Linked DNA regions of Homo sapiens. The protein of the gene in region 5 interacts with the protein of the main gene of each other region in a pairwise test. Each region holds a gene or a part of one and is shown on either strand. Other genes may lie near its edges. The genes, in order: PLEKHB2, AKAP9, TXNDC9, TNPO2, C1orf94, IPO11 and MEIS2.

Region 1 (3,500 bases), on a different chromosome or scaffold from region 5:
CAGAATATCGAGGATAAGGTCCACATGCCAATGGACTGCATCAACATCCGCACGGGGCAGGAATGTCGGGGTAAGCTGGCCTGTCTTGGCCAACTTCTGTCTTCTGCTCTTCCTCTGTCTTGCTGGGAGCTTGGTCCTCTTCCTTCCCTGTTCTGCTTTCATTAACAGATTGAAGAAGGGCTCCATCTCAGAGGGGCGACCACAGTGGGGCCCCAGGCACTTAGATTATGAACCACATGGTCGGGAAATATCAGTGTTCTCAGTCCACGTCCCTCGTTCTCGTGGAGAGGGAGCCAGAGCTCTGGGAACCTCAGGAAGCACAGGCCACCCTAGACTACGTTGATTTTGTACTCAGAAACTGGCTTCTGTTTGATGGTGACTCCAGTCAATTGCTTAAAATCTGGGATGTTGGCCAGGCATGGTGGCTCATGCCTGTAATCCCAGCACTTTGGGAGGCCGAGGTGGGTGGATCACGAGGGCAGGAGTTCAAGACCACCCTGGCCAAGATGGTGAAACCCCAACTCTACTAAAAATACAAAAAAATTAGCCAGGTGTGGTGGCAGGTGCCTGTAATCTGGCTACTCAGGAGGCTGAGGTAGAGAATTGCTTGAACCCGGGAGTCAGAGGTTGCAGTGAGCCGAATATATTTTGTGGACGTCATCTTGGCAGCTGGTCTTGTCAGTCAGCCTAGCTATGTTCTTTCTGCATTCTTGGAAAGGCAGAGGGTTCTTTCATAGATGTAGCACTTGATTTATTGTCTAGTCCTTTGCTTCTCTGAGCTGGTAGTTCTTAGAAAATGTAAGAAGAAATCCTGAAAAAAGTTCCTTTATTCTGCTTATTTTTCATAGATACTCAGCCCCCGGATGGAAAGTCAAAAGACTGCATGCTCCAGATTGTTTGTCGAGATGGGAAAACAATTAGTCTTTGTGCAGAAAGCACAGATGATTGCTTGTAAGTTTTGCTTTCTTATGTGTTTAATTTAAAAAGTATTTTCTATTTTAACTTCTGATTACCAAAAAATGAAAAGAAAGGGCGTGGAGTTTTCTTTCAGGCATCAGAATAAGGGACTCAGTGGATGTATGAGAGAAATGCAAGAGTCGCTTTTCCAATTCTAGTTTCTGCCTCTCTCAGACTGCCTAGGCCGATCCCATTGTGGTGAAAATGGCAGAAAGGAATAGCAGTCTCATCATGCTGTCTTTCATTATTAGATTCACAGTGGGTAACGGGCATAGTTGAAATAAAATGACCAGAAAAGCAAGAAAGTAAAGAGTAAGGAAACTGTCAGTTCCTAGGGCTGCTGTCACAAATTGCTGAACACTGAGTGACGGAAATGGCAGAAATTCATTGTCTCATAGTTCTGGAGGCTGGAAGTCTGGAATCAGTGTGTCAGCAGATCCTTGCTCCCTCTGAGATGCTGGGTAGGATCCTTTCTTGCCTCTTCCTAGCTTCTGGTGGTTGCTGGTAGTCCTTGGTGTTCTTTGGCTGACAGCCACATCACTCCGGTCTCTGCCTCTGTTGTCACATGGCCTTCTTCGGCTGTGTCTGTGTCCAGAATTCTCTTTTCTTATAAAGGACACCAATCATAATGGATTAAGGACCCACCTTAATTCACTATGACCTTATCTTAATTTGATTCCATATGCAAATATCCTATTTCCACATAAGGTCCCATTTGAGGGTACTGGGGATTAGGATTTATACATATCTTTTTCATGAGGACACAATTGAACCCATAATAGAGACTTTTGAGAAAGATGGTGAAATGGATTAGAGATCATCTTCCCTGAGGGGAAAACATTTCAATGGTGCAACCAAATAAAGAAGTTTGATCTCAAGCACAAACTACAAACAGTTAAAGAAAGAAATAGATGATTCTACTGAGATGTTCTTCAATCCTACCCGAATCCCAGAAGCAGTGACAAGATGAGTTAATTAAATCTTGCAAATTTTCAGTATTACCCTGTAATCTGGAGTGATGCTGATTAAGTGTAAGTTACTTTTTGGAAAAGCTAGGGAAAAAATCCTTAAGAATGTGATGTCCTTGGGGCCTCAGCAGAGGCTGGACGGTTCTCCCAGGACTCATCATTGCAGGGCAGTGAAAGGCACTGAAGCTCACAGGAGTTGGGTAATTTTCTGTCTGGTGAAGTGAGCCCTAGCATGGGACATTCAAAGGAATATGCTCAGAAGAGAGTGTAGGACCCAGAGTTTTCAGAAAAGACTTACTCGGTCTCAGAAGAAATGTCCTTCTCTTCTAGCCCTGTGCCCTCAGATTACAGAATGTTGATTGTGAGGGTAACACCTAGCCATCAAACTGTTGCTGGGCTGGACTGAGGTAGAACAGGGTGGAACTACCAGTTGATACCAGATTAGGTAGGAAGCGTGTCAAGGAGAAATAACTCATACTTTATGAGAGCAAACAGCAGTTTTAGATATCACTTCCCATGTTAAACGTGAGCAGGATGTAAAGAAGTGGCTTGGCAACTATGCAGATATACCATGAAGGAAAAATAAGAAAAGGAAAATGCAAGCCTCAGGAAAAGCTCCTAGAGTGGAGGAAAATAAAACCCAAGAAACAGGAGCAGAGTCTTCAGGAATGCTTTCCTGGCCACCATATTTAAAATTGTATCTCCCTGTCCCCATACACACTCACCATCTATCAACTATTTATCTTGTTCATCATCTGCTTTCATTAGAATATATGCTGTGTGAGGGCAGAGATTTATGTTTCTTTTCTGCTCTTTTGTGTCTGTAACTTAGAAGGTCTGTTGCTGTCAAGAGGGTGCCATTCACGTTATAATCTGAAGAAAGTGGTCTTCCCTTCAATACAACCCCAAATGAAAAGTGAATCATTGGCATGGAAGAAAAGACTGGAGATACTCTCAGTGACAGGAAAAAGATGAAAAGATCAGAGATATGTTAGACTAAAAAAAGTTCAGAAAGATTATTGATGTCCATAAAGTGTACAACCCAAAAGAGAGAATTACAAATCTAAGGCAAGAAAAATGTTCTGAAATAATCGAACTGAATTGGCAGACCAAAGTCCCTACTAGACTCTTCCACCTGATATGACAACAAAATCTATATAAGATATATGAATAATCCAGTATGATACCCTTTAGCAAAGTGAATGACAATGGTATGCCACATACAAAATCAGTTGGGGAATTTTGCAACTTAACTGCATTCCTTAGAAAGCTAGAACACTTGGGCTGGGTGTGGTGGCTCAAGCTTGTAATCCCAGCACTTTGGGAGGTCAAGGCGGATGGATCACCTGAGGTCAGGAGTTCGAGACCAGCCTGGCCAACATGGTGAAACCTCGTCTCTACTAAAAATACAAAAATTAGCCAGGCGTGGTGGCAGGCACCTGTAATCCCAGCTACTTGGGAGGCTGAGGCAGGAGAATGGCGTGAACCTGGGAGGTGGAGGTTGCGGTGAGCCAAGATCACACCACTGTACTCCAGCCTGGACAACAGAGTGAGACTCCATCTCAAAAAAAAAAA
Region 2 (3,500 bases), on a different chromosome or scaffold from region 5:
TTTATCTGAGACTTCATTCTGCAAATGTCTCATTTGTTCACTGGACTTAAGTATTGTATTTGATAATCTAGTTTTGCAAACCACAACTTACAAATCTTTTTGGGGGTAATTTATTGATAAACAGTTCCATTGGAAAATTCCCTTTCTGTATCTAAACCTTATAAATGATCACTTTTTAAACAGTTTGTCATGTATGCAGTATAATATATAGTATACTGTATAAAATGTTTTATACTACCCCAAATCTGTAATAATGGGTTAATAAATTATGATATGTAAAATAATTCTACAAAGACTTTTTGAGTGTGGAAAATGCCCACAAATAATGCCAGGTTAAAAAGAAAAAAGTTACCAGGAAAAGGTATATGTACATATTTAAATATGAAGACACCTGAAAAAAAGCACCAAGATGTAAATCGTGGCTATCTCTGGGTGGTGGCTTATAGGCAATTTTAATTTTCTTTATACTTTTAGTATTTTCCAAATTCTTGATACAATGTATCTCTTTTATGACCAGAAAAGAATATTCAAATGCCATTTTTTTTTTTTTTGAGACAGCCTGTCTCCCAGGCTGGAGTGCAGTGGCAGGATCTTGGCTCACTGCAGCCTCCACCTCCCAGGTTCAAGCGATTCTCCTGCCTCAGCCTCCCAAGTAGCTGGGATTACAGGCATTTACCACCACGCCTGGCTAATTTTTGTATTTTTAGTAGAGATGGGGTTTCACCATGTTGGCCAGGCTGGTCTCGAACTCCTGCCGTTAAGTGATCTGCCTGCCTCGACCTCCCAAAGTGCTGGGATTACAGGCATGAGCCACTGCACTCAGCCTCAAATGCCATTTTTTAAAAAACATAAAGGCTTATCAAATACATTATATTAAACACATGTTATAGTGTATGACCATTATCCAGAACAGGAAAATGAGGCACAGAATAACTAGGTTTCCTATTTTAGCGTAGGCCTGGAATTGTAATTGCTATTTCAGTGCAGAGTGTATAATATAGTTGGGATTATATTGTTAGACATTTTATAGATTTCCTTTCTGTTTTTGTTGTGCTTATTCTTTCCTTGCTGTTAGTTCGTATTGCTATGGGCATGCTCTTACTCCTCATCTGCCTCTTTTCCTAATTTGCTGTTTTAGATTTGCTACGACTAAGGAACCCAGAACTGAGGTTGACAGAATACTATGTAAAAAGAAAAAACAACAACAACAAAGACCTTAGGCGGGGTGTGATGGCTCACTCCTGTAATCCCAACACTGGGAGGCTGAGGTGGGAGGATCGCTTGAGCCCAGAGGTTCTAGATCAGCCTGGGCAATGTAGTGAGACCCCATCTCTAAAAAGAAAAAAGTATAAAAAACAAAACAGGTGGGGCGCAGTGGCTCACACCTGTAATCCAAGCACTTTAGGAGGTTGAGGTGGGTGGATCATCTGAGGTCAGGAGTTTGAGACCAGCCTGGCCAACATGGCAAAACCCCGTCTCTACTAAAAAATACAAAAAAATTAGCCAGGCGTGGTGGCAGGTACTAATCCCAGCTACTGGGGAGGTGGAGGCAGGAGAATCACTTGAACCCAGGAGGTGGAGGTTGCAGTGAACCGAGGTTGTGCCACTGTACTCCAGCCTGGGTGACAGAGCAAGACTCTGTCTCAAAAAACAAAACAAAACAAAAACAGAGGCCAGTGTAGCCTGCCCAGTGGGCTTTAGGGCAGTTTAGTTTTTCTGCTGCTTGTTGGTTGTTTTGGTTTACTGTTGGGTCCTCAGCTATTTCCTCAGTATTGATGTTGCAAGAAGCATGACCCTGGGAGATGTGAGACATTACTGCATTATGTATTAAGTAAATATTTTCAGAGCTGGGCTAGCTCCCTCTGCAGTGTTTTGACGAGGATGGCACTACATAGGTTGTCCTTGTGTTGAACCAAACTATTTTAACTCCATTTTAAATGACTTCATTTTTTTCCAAGTATAATTATTCATGGCACGTAAAGGAAGTATTGTAATTTAAGTGAACAGAATTAAATAGAGGACAGTTGTATATTTAATATAAAATTATTACTCATGTAAATTTGCATTAGGTATACTTTTTAAAGTTATTCAGTATTTTATATAATGGGCATTATTTGCTGAATAATTATAAAAAACTACTGTCTATTATATTCAGTAATTTGTAATTACATGACTTTTGTTTAACAAACATTTTCAGTGTGAAGAGTAGTTCCAATTGTGTACAAAAAAAAGGATGGTGCTCCATGCAAGCTGTATATTGATTATTGATAGCAGGACTTTTCAGTTACTGTTTCCACTGTGATAGACAAAGCTGGTTATGGTGTAAAACTGTTCTTTGCATATTTCAGATACTTTGTTCCACAGCTAAGAAAGTGTTTTCCCTTCCTGTTTTAAGCATTCTAGTTTTTCATACTTAGATGTGGCAGAGCTTACTTAGCATTCCGAGTAGATGCAGCAGTTTGATAGCTTCATCAACATTTATTGCAGCAATAGTGCAGTGCCTGTGACTTAAAACTAATTCATAACCTTCAGGCTTTTTTTTTTTTTGAGACGAGATCTCGCTGTGTTGTCCAGGCTGGAGTGGCAGCCTGCCTTGACCTCCTGAGCTCAAGTGATCCTCCTGCCTCAACCTCCTGAGCACCTGGGACTACAGATGTGCACCACCACACCTGGCTAATTGTTAAAATTTTTTTGTAGAGATGGGATTTCACCATGTTGCCCAGGCTGGTCTTGAACTCCTGGGCTCAAGCAATCCTCCTGCCTTAACCTCCCAAAGTGCCGAGATTATAGGGGTGACCCACTGCACCCAGCTTAGGCTTTGTCGGAATGAAGCAAAACATGGTGTTTAGAGAGAGAATGTGGAGGAAGGAACGTGATGCCCTGTCAGTGAAACTGAAAGTTGAATGATAGCTCATGGAAAGAGGAAGTGAAAAAGGTAGGATACATCCAAGTGATTGAAATATGACAAGAATGGAACAAAAATTTTTTCAAACAAAAACATCTCTTATTTTATAAATAAAAAGGTTCATAGTAAAAGCTAAACTATGTCTACAAAATATCTATTATAGGCTACTGAATATTGAAATGTAAATGAATTTCTTCTAATATAGCTAGAAAAGGTTATGGTAAATTGCTAAACAATAAGGGACATTATTTATATTCATTTCTTAGTAAGATTCCACTAAAATTAAGATTAGTCACTTTATGTAATTGCTTAACATCCATTTAAAAACTATAATTTGGAAAAGCTACGGAATTTTTCAAAACTTATTTATAAAAGTGGTTTGGTGTCTGGGGTGTGTGTGTGTGTGTGCGTGTGTGTGTGTGTGTGTGTGCTGGAGAGAGGGAGAAAGAGAATTTATAATACTGCTATCTGGTCTGGTAGAAATGGCACTAGGACTTTGGAGACATTTATGTGTTCATTTGTTCAACCAACATTTTTGAATGCCTACGACTGCAGCTATGAACTTTTACTTAGCAAGCATTTTTTTTTCCCCCCG
Region 3 (3,500 bases), on a different chromosome or scaffold from region 5:
TCACTGCAAGCTCCGCCTCCCTGGTTCATGCCATTCTCCTGCCTCAGCCTCCCAAGTAGCTGGGACTACAGGCGCCTGCCACCATGCCCGGCTAATTTTTTGTATTTTTAGTAGAGACGGGGTTTCACTGTGTTAGCCAGGATGGTCTTGATCTCCTGACCTTGTGATCCGCCTGCCTCGGCCTCCCGAAGTGCTAGGATTACAAGCGTGAGCCACTGCACCCAGCCTACCAGTAGTAACTTTTATTAAGCCATCTTCCAATGAAGACGGAAACAGAAGTGAGATTTTCTTGGCCAGGTGCGGTGGCTCACATCTGTAATCTTGGCACTTTGGGAGGCTGAGGCAGGCGGATCACTTGAAGTCAGTAGTTTGAGACCAGCTTAGCCAACACGGTGAAACCCTGTCTCTACTAAAAATACAAAAATTAGCTGGGTGTGGTGGTGCATGCCTGTAGTCCCAGCTACTTGGGAGGCTGAGGCAGGAGAATCACTTGAACCTGGGAGGTGGAGGCTGCAGTGAGCCGAAACTGTGCCGTTGTACTCCAACCTGGGCAACATAGTGAGACTCCATCTCAACAAACAAAAAAAGTGACATCTTCTTTACATTAAAATTTATTTTCTGGCCTGATGCAGTGGCTCACGCCTGTAATCCCAACACTTTGGGAGGCTGAGGCGGGCAGATCACTTGAGGCCAAGAGTTCAAGACCAGCCTGGTCAATATGGTGAAACCCCATCTCTACTAAAAATACAAAAATTAGCTGGGCGTCATGATGGGCACCTGAAATCCCAGCTACACAGGAGGCTGAGGCACGAGAATCACTTGAACCTGGGAGGTGGGGGTTACAGTGAGCTAAGATTACACCACTGCACTCCAGGCTAGGCGACAGAGTAAGACTCTGTCTCAAAAAATTCATTTTCAACTGGCCAATTCACGAGTGTTTCTAAAACAGACTATTGTAACAATCTTTTAGACCGGTGGTTCTTAACCCCAGGTGTTCATTATGATCAACTTTTATTTATTCATCTTTTTTGAGTTGGACTCTCACTCTGTCACCCAGGCTGCAGTGCAGTGGCGCGATCTCGGCTCACTGTAATCTCTGCCTCCTGGGTTCAATCGATTCTCCTTCCTCAGCCTCCCGAGTAGCTGGGATTACAGGCACCTGCCACCACGCCCGGCTAATTTTTGTATTTTTAGTAGCGATGGGGTTTCACCATGTTGACTAGGCTGGTCTTGAACTGCTGACCTCAAGCAATCCACCTGCCTCAGCCTCCCAAAGTGCTGGGATTAGAGGTGTGAGCTACCACACCCAGCCTGCCGTCAACTTTTAAAATATCCAGATGAATCAAAATTCTCTGGCAGTGGAGTTGGGAAACATACAGCTGTTCTTATGCTCAAATAAAGCTTGAGAACTACCTCTAGATGACTCACACACAAAATACTTCATGGTTATTTTTACCAGTAAGCTTTTTGTGCACTTGATGTAGTTTTTCCTGAACTAAGTTTGGCTCTAACATAAGTTATGTGTAACCTTGGTGCCTCATCACTTTTTCCCCGGATATGTTTTTTCATATGTTACTCATGTAGTTCAGTAACGAGATTTCAGTGAAAAATGGTAAGAGAGAACAAATTAATAAATGGTTTTTAAATAAAGCTCAAAACAAATGATAAATCAACCTTTATATGAGAAATATGTTCCTGAAAATTTGTAAATAAATCAACTCCATACTTTAACTGCAGTAAGGAACGTATTTTTTTTTTGAGATGGAGTCTCGCTCTGTCGCCCAGGCTAGAGTGCAGTGGCACGACCTCTGCTCACTGCAACCTCCACCTCCTGGGTTCAAGCAATTCTCCTGGCTCAGCCTCCTAAGAAGCTAGGATTACAGGCACCCGCACCATTGCCTGGCTAATTTTAATTTGTATTTAAAGAGCAAGACAGAGTGTCTTGCTCTGTTGCCAGGCTGGAGTGCAGTGGCACGATCTCAGCTCAATGCAACCTCCGCCTCCCAGGTTCAAGCAATTCCCCTGCCTCAGCCTCCTGCACAACTGGGACTACAGGCACGAGCCACCATGCCCAGCTAACTTTTTGTATTTTAGTAGAGATGGGTTTTCACCATGTTGGCCAGGATGGCCTTGATCTCCTGACCTCATGATCCACCTGCCTCAGCCTCCCAAAGTACTGGGATTACAGGCATGAGCCATGGCGCCCAACCCGTCAATCAATTTTTAAAAATCCAAAACAACAGTCATGGTATAAATAGCTATAGGCCTTTACGTATGTTTAAAAATAACTAAAAGAGCATAATTAGATTGTTTATAACACAAAGGATAAAAGCTTGAGGTGATGGATATTCCATTTACCCTGATGTGATTATTAAACACTGCATGCCTGTGTTAAAATATCTCATGTACCCCATATTTACCTACTACTACCCACAAAAGTTAAAAATTAAAAAAATAGCAATAGGCTTAAAACATGGGTTCCAATCTCTCTCTTTTTTTTATCATTTAGTATCTGAGTGATACTAGGTGAGTCAATTTCTCCAAATCTTGGTTTCCATACATGAAATACAGGAATAATAATAAGTGCCTCTGAAGATTATTGTGAATGTTCTAGGGATAATATACATGAAAGCATCCTGCCTACTATGTGCTAGGAACTTTGCTAATATATAAAGTTCACTGGATGATTTTGATTTTTCAGTTCTGTTTGAAGGTGAGTACTCCTGGTGATGCACTGTTTATACACCATCAAATGTATTTATTGACCACCTACTATGCGTCAGGCAGTTGCTTTAGGGCTATGATCCCAGAGAACAGTAGGTCACAATACAGGCAAATGCGCTGCCTCTACAAAACGAACAATCTAGTTGGGAAAGACATAAAAAAAACAAGTGAGGCCGGGTGCCGTGGCTCATACTTGTAATCCCAACACTTTGGGAGGCCAAGGTGGGTGGTTCACCTGAGGTCAAGAGTTTGAGACCAGCCTGGCCAATCTGGAGAAACCCTGTCTCTACTAAAAAGACAAAAGTTAGCCGGGTGTAGTGGTGGGTGACTGTAGCCCTGGCTACTCGGGAGGCTGAGGCAGGAGAATCACTTGAACCCGGGAGGTGGAGGTTGGAGTGAGCCAAGATCCTGCCATTGCACTCTAGCCTGGGTGACAGTGTAAGACTCTGTCTCAAAAACAAAAAAAAACAACAAAAAAAAAACAAGTGGACAAATAATATTTTACATACTAGTATATTTATATATCACCTCATCATATTTGTCAGAGGTTGGCAACTTGAGGAATGTGTGCCAATGCGAGATGGTTGTGTACCATAAGGGCAGAGGTTTCTCTGATACCTTTCTACCTGCCTAATCCCTTCTCTCACTGTTCCTCACAAGGGATTTCACCATCTCAATATTTTGTTTCATTTTTATTCTCTTAGTCAATGAATACCAGGCAATCAATTCTTGAAAGGTGTTAACTAACAATGAAGCTGTTGGGTTGTGAGATCAAG
Region 4 (3,500 bases), on a different chromosome or scaffold from region 5:
CTCTTGTTCATTCTTGCAGGCAGGTAGTTCTTTCATGTTGTAAGCATAATTACAGCAACAATGATAATAACAGCAGGCACAGCTGCATGCTTGCCTCGTGCACTTATGTAGACAAACATCCTTGGCCCTCACCACCACCTGATGAGCTGGGTGCCGGATCCCAGTTTCGAAGATGGGGAAACTGAGGTACAGAAAGATTGATGCCACTTCCTTACAGTCACTCAGGGTGTGTCTGGGCCTTAAACCTGTTCCTGGCTGCCGGGCTGGCCTGCCAGAGTCAGTAGTAACCCGTGGTAGGTGGTGTTTCATCAAATTCAACCTGGTGTTCTGTAATCGGTGGGGTTTTCAGGCTCCCATGGTCCCGGTGGGACATAAAACTTGTTACAGGAGGGCTTTGTGAGTCCGTTGGAGGCATCATATACCATTGCCTCAGCATCCAGACCTGTGCCAAAAATTTCAGGCATGGCAGCAAAAACCCTCAACCTTGTAAGCTTTCAAAATTTGTCTAAAATTTGTCTAGTTACTGTGGTGCACGCCTGTAATCCCAGCTACTCAGGAGGCTGAAGCAGGACAACTGCTTTAGCCCAGGAGTCCGAGACCAGCCTGGGCAACATAGGGAAACCCTCTTTCTACAAAAAATTTTTTAAAAAGGCCAGGTGTGGTGGCTCATGCCTGTAATCCTAGCACTTTGGGAGGCTGAGGCAGGCAGATCGTTTGAGCCCAGGTGTTCAAGACCAGCCTGGGCAATATAGTGAGACCTCATATCTACCAAAAAAAAAAAAAAAAAAAACCTGATAAAATTAGCCGGCGTGGTGGTAAGTGCCTATAGTCCCAACTAACTGGGAGGCTGAGGTGAGAGGTCAAGGCTGCAGTGAGCCATGATTGCGCCACTGCGTTCCAGCATGGAGAACAGACTGAGACCCTGTCTCAAAAAAAAATTGTCTAAAGAAATGTTTCGACATGTAATATGTGTTTAATGTATCTCATATCTCATGTTAATAGGGTATATATCACACAATACGCTTACATATGTTAATAGATTACATAAGCTGTGTTATTTATTTATTTATTTGAGACTGAGTCTTGCTTTCTCGCCAGGCTGGGGTGCAGTGGCATGATCTTGGCTCACTGCAACCTCCGCCTTCCAGGTTCAAGTGATTCTCCTGCCTCAGCCTCCTGAGTAGCTGGGACTACAGGTGCATGCCACCACGCCCAGCTAATTTTTTTGTATTTTTAGTAGAGACAGGGTTTCACCACGTTGGCCAGGATGGTCTCTATCTCCTGACCTCATGATCTGCCTGCCTTGGCCTCCCAAAGTGCTGGGATTACGGGTGTGAGCCACCTTGCCCAGCCAGCCACCACGCCTGGCCTCTTTTTTTTTTCTTTTTTTTTTGAGATGGAGTCTCCCTCTTATCGCCCAGGCTGGAGTGCAGTGGTGTGATCTTGGCTCACTGCAACAACATTCTGCCTCCCGGGTTCAAGCAATTCTCCTGCCTCAGCCTCCAGAGTAGCTTGGGATTGCAGGAATTCACCACCAGGCCTGGCTAATTTCTTTTTTTTTGAGACGGAGTTTTGCTCTTACTGTCCAGGCTGGAGTGCAATGGCGCAATCTTGACTCACTGCAACCTCTGCCTCCCGAGTTCCAGAGATTCTCCTGCCTCAGCCTCCCAAGTAGTTGGAATTACAGGTGTCCACCACCGCACCTGGCTGATTTTTGTATTTTTAGCAGAGACGGGGTTTCTTTCACTGTGTTGGTCAAGCTGGTTTCGAACTCCTGACCTCAGGTGATCCATCTGCCTCAGCTTCCCAGAGTGCTGGGATTACAGGCGTGAGCCACCGCACCCGGCCTGTATTACATGTTTATGGTAAAAAGATCTATAGGAGTTGAGCTCAAACTGGTAAACATAGATCTTGTGTCTTGGATTATTGGCAATGTGCTATTATCTTTGTTCTCTTTAAATAAAAGAGCAGAGTTCGTGATATTTTAAAAAAAAAAAAAAACCCTGGGTGTGGTGGCTTAAGCCTGTAATCCCAGCACTCTGGGAGGCCAAGGCGGGTGGATCACCTGATGCCAGGGGTTCAAGACCAGCATGGCCAACATGGCAAAACCCCATCTCTGCTAAAAATACAAAAATTAGCCAGGTGTGGTGGTGCATACCTGTAGTCCTAGCTATTGGGAGGCTGAGGCACGACAATCACTTGAACCTGGGAGGCAGAGGTTGCAGTGAGTGGAGATCACACCACTGCACTCCTCCTTGGGGGACAGAGCGAGACTCTGTCTCAAAGAAAACATTAAAAAATTGTTAAAAATGGCTGGGCACAGTGGCTCACGCCTGTAATCCCAGCACTTTGGGAGGCCGAGGCGGTTGAATCAACTGAGGTCAGGAGTTCGAGACCAGCCTGGCTAACACGGTGAAACTTCGTCTCTGCTAAAAATATGAAAAATTAGCCACACGTGGTGGCCCACGCCTGTAGTCCCAGCTACTGGGGAGGTTGAGGCAGGAAAATTGCTTGAATCAGGGAGGCGGAGGTTGCAGTGAGCCAAGATTGTGCAACTGTACTTCAGCTTGGGCAACAGAGCAAGACTCCGTCTCAAAAAAATAATAATAATAAATTAAAAAATTAAACAAAAATAAGGAGAAATAGAACAATCATAAACGGCCAGACACCTATAATCGCAGCACTCTGGGAGGCTGAGGTGGGATCACGTGAGGTCGGGATTTTAAGACCAGTCTAGCCAACATGGTAAAACCCCGTCTCTACTAAAAATATAAAAATTAGTTGGGTATGGTGGCGGGCGCCTGCAGTCCCAGCTACTTGGGAGGCTTAGGCAGGAAATCACTTGAACCCGGGAGGCAGAGGCTGCAGTGAGCCCAGATCACACCACTGCACTCTAGCCTGGGCAACAGAGCAAGACTCCATCTCAAAAAAAAAAAAAAAAAAAAAAAAAAAAGAAAACTCACAAACATCTTAAGAACTGTTTCAAATGCAAAGTGCTTTTATTCCATTTGGGTCACTGCTGCCCCATAAAACCCCACTCACTATGTAACGGAGCCAATTTTGAATTAACACATGAATTCAATTAACACATGAATTAATGCATGAATTGAATTAACGCAATAACACGGAGCTCTTTGGCTGGGCGCGGTGGCTCACGCCTGTAATCCCAGCACTTTGGGAGGCCAGGGCGGGTGGATCACGAGGTCAGGAGACTGAGACCATCTTGGTCAACATGGTAAAACCCTGTCTCTACTGAAAATATAAAAAATTCCCCGGGCATTGTGGCAGAGGCCTGTAATCCCAGCTACTTGGGAGGCTGAGGCAGGAGAATTGTTTGAACCAGGAGGTGAAGGTTGCGGTGAGCCATGATCGTACCACTGCGCCCCAGCCTGGGCGACAGAGCGAGACTCTGCCTCAAAAAAAAATAAAGATAACCCGGGGCTTTGGGATGAGAGGCTTCTGTTGTTTCCCCTCCTGTGCCTGCCTTTACCTGGCTCTGT
Region 5 (3,500 bases):
CTGGGCACTGGGGAGACAAAGATGAGTAAGACACAGACCTTGCCCTTAAGAAGCCCATAGTGCAGTAGCGGAAGAGGAATTGTTGCCACAAGGCAGCACACGATATGTGCCAGGTGCCCACCACCTCATCAGAATCCCACACTGGAACTGGGCTGATAGCCCCGATTAAGGGGCTGTGTCCTTCCCTCTGGCCAATGGTCAAGAAGAGAGCTGATTTTAAACAGATTCTTCCATTCTATCGTCCTCAAAAGATCTATCCCATGTAGCTCTCAGAGCTGGGGAAGCATTTGTCTCTTATGATGACCCCTTCTGCTTTCTCTTAGAAGACAATATGAGTTATGAAAACCGAATGCTATGATCTCCCTTTATGCCCTGGCTGCCAAGAATCTCAAACCAGATGCTGTTATCAGTTGAGCAGTTTCCCTTCAGCCTAAGTTTCCTGGCATATATATCTCCTTGTCCCATATCAATCATGTCCTGTTATTTTATCCATGATAATGACAATGATGATGGTGGAATGGTGATGATGATGATGAACATCGAGTCCTTCTCTTATTCCCAGTGCTGTGTGAGCTCTACATATATCATTTCATTTGCTTCCATAGTAATCCCTTGAAATAGTCGCTGTGACTTTTCCCATTTTTTCAGATGAGGAAAATAGGGCACAGAAAGTTTGGGGAACTTGCTTACAGCTAGAAAGTGTGCTGGAACTCTAATCCACCTGTCTCCTTATTTTTTGTTATCTGGGCCACCTTAAAACACTTAGGAAAGAGGTGGGACATAGTTGTTTATTTCAATTAAAAAGAGGAATGTGGGAAAAAGAGAAAGAAAAATGTTGAATGATGTGAGCAACAAAGAATTCAGAGGACAACACACTTATTCTAGGTCCTTAAGGATGGATAAGATTTAGATAGACAGAGATATGGGAGAAGGGCATTCCTGGTAGTGGAATAACATGAGCAAAGGCAAGGTGACATGCACCTGCTGGTAGCTCTTGTTGGTTTATAGAGCATGTGCAGGAGACCAGCAAGACGTGCATCTAGAGATGGAGGCAGGGCCACTACAGAGACCCCTGAAAACCAGGCCCAAGGGGCCAGAGGACAAGGCGAGCCATGAGAGATGTCTGAGCAGTGCTGTTGACCTGCTTCAGAAGATGAAATTGGTGAAGGGTGGAGGGCATCCTGGAGGGAAAGGCACCCAATGCAGTGAGAAGAGATGTGGTGAGGGTGGCAGAGGAGAGACGAGCAGGGAGGCAAGGCACCAAAGGCCATCATGAAGGGGGACTGCCAGGACGTGTGGCAGGCTGGAGGAGGGAAGAGCCAGTGTCTGCCAGCACTAGCTCACTTGACAAACAAGAACAGGGGTGCATCAGTGTCAATGGGACTGGGGTGCTGAGACCCAGCATTGGGAAGCTCAAGAGAGGGAAAGGCTGGGTGCAAGGGCTCACGCCTATAATCCCAGCACTTTGAGAGGCCAAGCCAGGTGGATCACCTGAGATCAGGAGTCCGAGACCAGACTGACTAATATGGTGAAACCCTGTCTCTACTAAAAATACAAAAATTAGCCAGGCATGGAGGTGCATGCCTGTAATCTCAGCTACTTGGGAGGCTGAGGCAGGAGAATTGCTTGAACCCGGGAGGTGGAGGTTGCAGTGAGCCAAGATCGCGCCACTGCACTCCAGCCTGGGTGACAGAGCGAGACTCCATCTAAAAAATAAAAATAAATTTAAAAATAAAGTAAAATAAAGAGAGAGGGAGACACTTGCTTAAGGGTTGGGTCTCAGAGCAAAGGGTTCCAACTTGTGGCCCACGGGGTCTCTGAAATCATTCCCAAATACTGAGAGATGTGAGGATGTGTTTCAGACAAAAGCTGCACAGAAGCTTTTTCTCAGATTTTCAAAGAGGTATTGACCCCTCCAAGAGGAGAAAACACTAGTTGAGATTAGACTCCAAAGATCTTCAGAGCTGGCTTCTAGTCTGAGACATCAGCCTGAGTTTCCGTATCTGAGTCTTGTCTTTATCACTCCCATCACCAGGTTTCAAGCTTTTTAAAGAATAATGCTAAAAAAAAAACCAAAAAAAACAAAAGAGGCTATGTATTCCAAGCAACTTTTCCAGAGAAGTCGGGTTCACCTAATTGTTTAAATAACAGTAGCACAAAGAGATGTTTGTTGGGAGAGCCATTCAAGCAAGGAAGCCGAGTGGATTCCCAAATATCACTTGCTCACCAGTGTGGAGAACTGGCCAATGGAAGCCAACAGTGAAAGTTTACCAAAATAAGTGCAAAAAAGCCTTCTTCCTTCTTGCAACAAATAGCCTCAGAAAGCTGCCAATCAATAAACCACTTCTGTTTTTCAAAAAATGCTTAAACAGATTTCTTTTATTTCAGTAGATTTATCTCCCTACCTGAGTCTGGCTTGGAATAATGCTCACCAAAGCCTTTCCACTCTGCAGACCAAGTTTGTTATGACAGGTAAATGGGAAAGTCTTGGGTGCTGACAGAGGGCCTGGAAGCATCCAGGGAAGCCAACCACACCCAGCAAGCTCGAGCCACCTTCTCCCGGTCACTAACACATGCTACACTTCACTCCCATGTAACTTCTCATCTTTCCCTGCGCCTGCTGCTGGGCTCTTTCCATAGGCTGTTCTTTCTCTCTTCTCAAGACCTAGCTGGGGGACATAACTATGGAAACCTTTGCAGTTATTAATCATGACATCCCTGCTACCTGCGGACTACACCCGCATCTTTCATCACACAGTGCAGGGGTCTCATCTGTTGCTGCTTCAGATTGCTTCCCTCAGAGGAAGACTTCCCTAAGTACCAAGCCCAGTCCAGTAGTCAAGTACAATGTTCAGTCATGTGTCCCCTCAGTGCGCTTCCATGGCACTGGCACTTCATCACCAGAACACTTACTATAGTGTGTTGTGATCTGCCTTTTGCAAGATGTTGAAAGTTCATAAAGGAGGTCAGAGACTGTCCCCAGCTTTTCCACCATTGTATTTTTTTCAGACATTTCAGTAATAGGTGCATACTAATTTTTTTTTTTTTTTGAGACGGAGTTTTGCTCTTGTTACCCAGACTGGAGTGCAATGGCACAATCTCGGCTCACTGCAACCTCTGCCTCCTGGGTTCAATCAATTCTTCTGCCTCAGCCTCCTGAGTAGCTGGGATTATAGGCACCTGCCACCACGCTCAGCTGATTTTTGTATTTTTAGTAGAGACAGGGTTTTACCATGTTAGCCAGGCTGATCTCAAAACTCCTGACCTCAAGTGATCCACCCACCTCGGCCTCCCAAAGTGCTGGGATTATAGGCATAAGCCACCGCACCTGGCAATATTTGTTGAATGTCATTGTTGTCAGATGTATCTGTGTTCATGCCACCCACTAGACTGGGAGCTCTTTGAGGAAAGGCTTCTGTTCTGCTTATCTCTGTGTCCCTGGGACCCATCATACAGCCTGGTACTGCGAAGGCAATTGTGTTTGTTGAATGAATTCATGA
Region 6 (3,500 bases), on a different chromosome or scaffold from region 5:
TCCTCCTGCCTCAGATTCCTGAAGAGTTGGGACTACAGGTATGCGCCACCACTCTGGTCTAATTTTTTTTTCCTTTTTTTACTTTTTGCAGAGACAGGGTCTCACTATGTTTACCAGGCCGGTCTTGAATTTCTGGCCTCAAGCGATCCTCCCACCTTGGCTTCCCAAAGTGCTAGGATTAAAGTGTGAGCCACCATGCCCAGCAAATGTCTGGAATCTTTAATAGAGTGTCATTCTCTACTAAGAGCTTTAGAAAGATTAAGCTTTCCCCTATCAATTTTTCTTGCAATTAATACTTACCCTCAAACTATATTTCCAAGAATCTCCTCCTGTTTCTTCCACTGCTGCAATTAAAAATATGTAATAATGACATTTTCAACATCTTGGTTTAGAAAACAAAGATTTTAATAACATCAGTATAATATTTTTGTGAACTCTTTTAAACATAACATTAAGAGCAAAGCCTTGGGAACACAGGCCTTACACAGATTTTGTTACTATATGCTACAGATCACAGTTGTGTATCTCACAGTCGTCTATTAAGTGCTTACTATATCCATAAGCATTCTCATTTTCGATAAAAATTCTTTATGGAAAAAAGCTCAAAGTAGTTGTCATTTCCAGGGTATCTGCTATCACCTGATCCAATATCACTAGAATTCTGAGAATCATTTCATTTCAATACAGTAATCATGTTTCACTAGGTACAATGATTACTCACACTCTCCATAAATTTCTTGAATTTAAAGAAAAATACTTCAGGGCTCTTAAAAATTTAGGGACTCAACACTTTATGTTACAATGTTGTATGTACTATATAAAGAAAGCAAATTGAAAAAAGATGTTTCAAAAAAAGCAAAAAAAAAAACAAGAAAAGACATGTTGTACAGTACAATCCTGTATTAAAACTAAAATTACTTTTAAAAACCAAAAGCATGGCGAAGATAAGTATTACAAAAACTTTTGGGCACTCTTAAAATATTAGGAAACGTGTAACTACACAAGGGTACACAACCAAAGAGAAAAGGGAGGCTAAAATCTAGCCTATGTCCCACCATAGCTTAAGTAATTCACATACAAGTAAGTACTTTATTAGACACATGATTCCTTGATTTTCTATAGCAAGGGTCCCAACAGACTTATTCTACTTATCTATCTAGTACTAAAATTCAAACAGATATAAAGATGTCCTGTCCAAAAAAAAAAAAAAAACTATTCATCAAAAACCTCCAAATTTCTTTGCAAGAATTTCTACAAATAAAAAATAACATGGAATGAATCACAAAATAGAAACTGACAGGGTAAGAGAGAGTTAATTTTATATTTTTGTTTGAAACTACATGATATATTTGTAAAGGAATCCAAAAACTAAAAAGGTCTTTTCCTGGACAAAATTCTACAACATATTTGCATAAGTCATTCATTTTCTGCTTCTCAATTTGTTCTAATGGATAACAACGAAAGAGTAAGTTAATTTTAAAACACCAAGATTTCCAGATCAAAAGTGCTGTATGAAAATACAATATTATACCTATCACTCAAACAGATATTTATAGAAAGGGGAGAAAAGTCATTCTAACACTAAAAAATTAATTCTTACTAAAGCCTTCTGGGTCTTCTTCCCACATTGTCAGTTCTTCTTCAGTTAATAGGAAATAATGAGAGACTAATCTTCTACATATCTCTGTCAAAGTAGGATATGTGAAGAATGCCATCTTAATCTTATGGGCTTCAAGAGTTTCAGGGCTGCTATCTAGAAAAATGAAATTTCCAAGTTAATTGTATAGCCAAACATTGTAGCTACATTGGATTATGTAACTTAAATAAATAAAAAATACACTCTCAGGGAAGAAGATACACTTGTGTATAAATTTTCATTTTTATTATAAACAAATCTCAAAGATACTCTTTCCTTACAACACACTCACATCAATCTTGCCTCTGGCATTACAGCTTATATATTACCATGCAATACCATCACGGCATACTGAAATAACTTCCTCATAATGTAGAGGGTGTGGGGGGTGTGTGCATGTGTTTCTCTCTCCCCCACCACCAAGACTTCTTCATTCATCTTGGCACACACGCATATGAATGAATTCCAAATAATACAACAATTTAACCTGTCTAGAAACAATCACACTTTATATAAAGTCAGAGAAAGCTTTTATTTGTTCAAATGAATACACCCTACAATATGAGCTGCAGTGATGACTATAGTACCTAATTCTTAAAGTCCCTAAGCTTCAACCAATTTGTGCTACAAAAAATGGCTTATTAAATGCACTATGTTGTTTTTAAAAGCTAGTATAAACATACTAAAGCCTATAATCCTTATATCTTTTTCATGTCCCAGCAACAATTTATTTTTCAGACTAAAATGACATTTTTTAAAAAGTTTGTAATTATAGCAATTATATCACACTTAAGATTAAAATAATTCTTTTAAACTGCCAATAAAGGAATTACCTTCAAAATTTTTGGATGGCTTATAAGCATAATTTTTGACAATCATCTTAATAAGATTCATACATTGGACAATGAATCGTTCAAATGTAACGCCTTCACCAACTTCTGTAAAAACATAGCTTACAGAAAATTCCAGTGATCTCTGAATTAGAGGAGTAAATGAAAAAGGATGCTGATCCAAGAAGTCCAAAAGCTGTAGAAAAATAAATAAATAAAAATTAAAATGTATTTTCCCCAAATTCATATTGGAATATAATCACTCCAATTATAACTTTACTAATAATCATTTAGCAGTTTGAACCTTAGTGTGGAGTCTATGTTCACTCAGTTTTACATTATCATAACTCTTCTTGAGGCACATCATATAATGAGGATTATGTTAGATTATATCTGATAATAAGAACTTTCTATTATTTTCAATACAGAAACCAAAACAGACTCAATTCATACTTAATTTTATAACAATGGGTGAATATGATACAAAACGCTTAAATATACAATAGACCTTTAAAAGTAATAGACTAAGGTAAAGAATTTAAATATTATCTTCCCTTTCCCATATGAATTATATTTTAATGTTATCAAATAGCTAAGGAGGGAGATGTCTTCTTTATAGAAGAATTTCAGCTAATAAATGCAAAAGGAATAACAGAATTAGAATGCCATCATTGTGTAACTCCTGATCAAATAATGGATCTAGGCAAATGATGATCAACAGCTGTTAAAATAAGAGAAAAGCTGCTGAGGAAATTTGATAGATCACTCATCAATCTTAGCCACAGAAAAAGAAACCAATGAGAACAAAGACACAATGTACCAGAGTCTCTGGGACACATTTAAAGCAGTGTGTAGAGGGAAATTTATAGCACTAAATGTCCACAAGAGAAAGCAGGAAAGATCTAAAATCAACACCCTTACATTACAATTAAAAGAACTAGAGAAGGAAGAGCAAACACATTCCAAAGCTAGCAGAAGGCAAGAAGTAACTAAGATCAGAGCAGAACTGAAGGAGACAGAGACACAAAAAAACC
Region 7 (3,500 bases), on a different chromosome or scaffold from region 5:
CATATGGTGTTTGTTTGCAAAACAATGGACTTCTTTATTACTTAAGAAAGTGTAGCTCAGTTGTCAAAAAAGAAAGTGATCAGCTATGTAGAGGTGAAAACAAAAGGAGAGTTGAAACTGCATCTTTCTTCCCACCTGTCACCTGAAATGTTGCTGAGGAATGAATATCTGACTAGATCACAAAGACTTCCAGAAGCATCCCTCCTCCAATCAGAAAAAGAACTTAATTATCTACTCTTTCCCCACCACTTTTACAGCAACCAAGGAGGACTGACCTGATATTTCCACCCCAGGAACCGTTTTTATCAGCTCACCTTGAAACCAGCAGAGATGCTCAGGAGGGTCAGAGAAGGCTCTTCTCCTTGAAGTTTCTAATAGAGGACAACACTCGGCAGGGGTTTTACCCCCTTTTATGTGCTACTAATCCTGGTTTTTGTGTTTTGCGTTTTTTATTTTTATTTTTTTTTCGGTATAGGCTAACTCTTCGGGTAAAACGAATTGCTATTTTTTTCCCTTTTTAATTTCACTCTTTTATTCTTTACATCTGGAGGTTGTTCCCTTATTTATGTCTTTCTCTCCAGTTCCCCCAAACACTCCCTTACTCACAGAGCTGCAAGGCATCATGGTTCTTAGTTCTCAGCAGGAGAACTCCACACTGTCTTCAAACAAATACTTACGGGGAAGGTTAGAGGTTCACTCAAAGGTCATTTCTTTGGATACTAGTCAGAATGTTTACATTAGTAAAAACGAGGTCCGCTCAAAAGGTTGTTCAATGGGGGACACACAACAATGCAGAACATTAAAAAAGCATTCTGTGAGCTAGCAGGTCTTTATAGAAGCACTGAACTTGGAAATGCCACTCCAGTATAACATTTTCAACTAGTTACCATGGCATGGACTGGATGTTCACTAGCAGTTATGGCAATGGCCTTTCTTTACCCACTTCTCCTAAGCAAATATGAATAGAAGCCTCTGAAGGTTTTCACTAGGTCCTTTTAAAAAGGGTCACAGAGATTTTGCTTTTTTCACTTGGGCACCATTTAGCCTCTCTGGATTTTTGTTCTCAAACAATGTTTTTGATCCATAGTGCTATTTCTTGACAGATTCATAATTCTACCACATTCTTTCAAATCACACAGAATTTTAAAAACATATGGGCCCCAAATTTTCAGAAATCTCTTAACATGCAACTCCTGCCAATTGTCAATTCCCCTGATCTTGGGATATTTTATTGACATCATAGATATTACTATGAAAATTAACAATTAATGAGCTGACTGTAAGAAAACCCTGACATTAAAAAATGAAATTACCGCCTCCTACCAGTACTGATGACTCAGAGGCCACTCTTAGAAAATACACTGACATACATAACATGGAGCCATTTAAATTATAGACTAAAACAAATCAAACTAGAAATAATTTTTATTTATTTAATATTTGTAAGATGAAATTTCCATATATGGTCTTTTCTCAAAATTACATGAAATAAATTTTTTTCCACATCTTCTAATCTATATTTTTTAGAATGACCTTTTTCAATGCTCAAGTAGTAAATAGAATATCAAGCTTTGATTTTACGTAAAATTTGAAGAAGCTAAGTTGAAAATCAACTCATCTTCAGTCTTTCAAGGTTCAGGCTCCATTCATATGGAAAAATGTAACTTGCTGGTTCAAAGACAAAAGACTTGTCTTAAAAAGACTCAAAAGGTTCCATGGATATTAAATGGGCCTTATAAAATAACATTTTGATGAGTTAAGTGTAAATGAATCAGACACATATGGATTAAGTTATCCTTGAATTTCACACGGGTTTAAAAAATAAGGGGAAAAGAGGGTCTTGGCAAAAAACATTTTGGACTTTGCCAAACCCAAAACATTTGAAAAATTGCTGAAGACATCCAACTAACCAAAATGCAGCAAGCTGCACCCAACTTTAATGAAAACCCCCACAAGTTATTTCCAATCCAAAGACTGTTAGATTTTTCATCTGTATCTGATATTAAAAAATTCTCTAAGTTTTAATGTCATACCAGAATGATTTCGAAGTTGCAGGCATATAATCTACTTTTCTATCGGTTTAAACAATTTAAGTTACAAAGTCTTCTTCAATATTAAACAGTTCTTAAAAAACATTCTGAGTTTTTTTACAACTTGTCCATAAAATGTACCAGTAAGCTTAGTGTCTAGCTCTATCTAGATTTCACTTAGAAAAAAAATTTTCATTAGCCTCATTGTGACTTTTTTTAAAGGGCTACACATAATTTCATTAGTGAGTCCTTAGGGAATGAATACCCTAAAGAGCCCTAGTTCCATTGATTTGTATTGAACACAAAGTTAGTATCCAGGCCCATACAAAAGCTTGGGAGAGTATCTACTAAGACTATCTACTTTTTCTCTAAATTTTACTTAAGTAGAAAATGCATGAGTATGTGTGATCCTTAAAAATTATATACTAAGACTGTTAGTTTAAAAATAACTTAATTATAGAAATAAATTCAATGATGTTCCAAGAATCACGAGGCCTTTCTGACTCAACTCAGAGATGAAAAAATACATTAAAACAAATAAACCCAAGGTAGCAAATATCACTGTAATCTCATCTTACTGCCTTGCTGAAGAGCTATTTCCCAGAGACCTCTCCTGTCCTCAGAAAGTCTAAACTTGGTAGCTTTGCATACTTTTCTACAACTGAACTCTGACCATCATGATTTTTCTTTAAAGACTTTTTACTCCGAAGTATGGTTCAGATTGATAGAAGTAGATTTAGGTGTCATTCCTGTTTGTTGTTGGTTTCTTTTCTTTATTCCTTTCTTTCTCCACCCCCCAATCTTTTTAAATGGCGGATAAATCCCTTCTTTCTGGTTCACTAACTTCATGCCACACCTGGTAACCAACTCCTTTTGGAGGCATTCCTTTTGTTAGAAAGTGCAGGCCTCCATGGAGTTACCTGGAAAGCTGCCATCCCTGAACACTCTGAGGAGGAATCAAGAATAGCTGGAATTGAAGATTCTGCATGGATTGCTTTGCGCAGGGAAGGGGACTGAACCGTTGAAGAGAGATCAGATCAACTGGGGAAAGGCGTAGGTAGCTCAGTGACCGGGGACCTGTTAAAACATGAAAAGGCCCTGCTTCCCTACTGTCCCCAGCCCTGGGACCCATCAGCCACAGTGCTTATTCACAGCACTTGCTCCTGGCTGGTGTTTCAAATGATGAAACTTCAGCCTTGGCAAGTCACTTATCAAATTTCTCCATGTTTTCTTACTTTACAAAAAAAGCAAGTATTTCTCTGTGCTATGGTTACAGCTGAGAGTAGGATTTTCTCAGTAAGATACATTAAAATGGTTAAATCAGTGAATAAGGCAAGCTTAATGCCTTTGAAGATGAACTTGGGCACGCAAATGATGGAGTCATGTCGCAGACATAAGTTTTCCACTGGTGACCAGACAATGGCTCCTTTCTCACAGACAACCGTGAGCAAAGTAAGGTAAATGAATGAG

What was found.
Region 1: the proteins of C1orf94 (region 5) and PLEKHB2 interact in binary tests that used the Homo sapiens proteins (3 or more experiments, as listed by UniProt).
Region 2: the proteins of C1orf94 (region 5) and AKAP9 interact in binary tests that used the Homo sapiens proteins (3 or more experiments, as listed by UniProt).
Region 3: the proteins of C1orf94 (region 5) and TXNDC9 interact in binary tests that used the Homo sapiens proteins (3 or more experiments, as listed by UniProt).
Region 4: the proteins of C1orf94 (region 5) and TNPO2 interact in binary tests that used the Homo sapiens proteins (3 or more experiments, as listed by UniProt).
Region 6: the proteins of C1orf94 (region 5) and IPO11 interact in binary tests that used the Homo sapiens proteins (3 or more experiments, as listed by UniProt).
Region 7: the proteins of C1orf94 (region 5) and MEIS2 interact in binary tests that used the Homo sapiens proteins (3 or more experiments, as listed by UniProt).

What each region holds. Positions count from the first base shown.
Region 1 is NC_000002.12:131,125,836-131,129,335, forward strand, and holds part of PLEKHB2 (pleckstrin homology domain-containing family B member 2), read left to right. Parts: coding exon 1-70; intron 71-848; coding exon 849-951; intron 952-3,500. UniProt on the Homo sapiens protein: Involved in retrograde transport of recycling endosomes.
Region 2 is NC_000007.14:91,943,862-91,947,361, forward strand, and holds part of AKAP9 (A-kinase anchor protein 9), read left to right. Parts: intron 1-3,500. UniProt on the Homo sapiens protein: Scaffolding protein that assembles several protein kinases and phosphatases on the centrosome and Golgi apparatus. Required to maintain the integrity of the Golgi apparatus. Required for microtubule nucleation at the cis-side of the Golgi apparatus.
Region 3 is NC_000002.12:99,322,834-99,326,333, forward strand, and holds part of TXNDC9 (thioredoxin domain-containing protein 9), read right to left. Parts: intron 1-3,500. UniProt on the Homo sapiens protein: Significantly diminishes the chaperonin TCP1 complex ATPase activity, thus negatively impacts protein folding, including that of actin or tubulin.
Region 4 is NC_000019.10:12,706,933-12,710,432, reverse strand, and holds part of TNPO2 (transportin-2), read left to right. Parts: intron 1-3,500. UniProt on the Homo sapiens protein: Probably functions in nuclear protein import as nuclear transport receptor. Serves as receptor for nuclear localization signals (NLS) in cargo substrates.
Region 5 is NC_000001.11:34,183,407-34,186,906, reverse strand, and holds part of C1orf94 (uncharacterized protein C1orf94), read right to left. Parts: intron 1-3,500.
Region 6 is NC_000005.10:62,482,263-62,485,762, reverse strand, and holds part of IPO11 (importin-11), read right to left. Parts: intron 2,663-3,500; coding exon 2,470-2,662; intron 1,754-2,469; coding exon 1,601-1,753; intron 345-1,600; coding exon 301-344; intron 1-300. UniProt on the Homo sapiens protein: Functions in nuclear protein import as nuclear transport receptor. Serves as receptor for nuclear localization signals (NLS) in cargo substrates.
Region 7 is NC_000015.10:36,898,050-36,901,549, forward strand, and holds part of MEIS2 (homeobox protein Meis2), read right to left. Parts: intron 1-3,500. UniProt on the Homo sapiens protein: Involved in transcriptional regulation. Binds to HOX or PBX proteins to form dimers, or to a DNA-bound dimer of PBX and HOX proteins and thought to have a role in stabilization of the homeoprotein-DNA complex.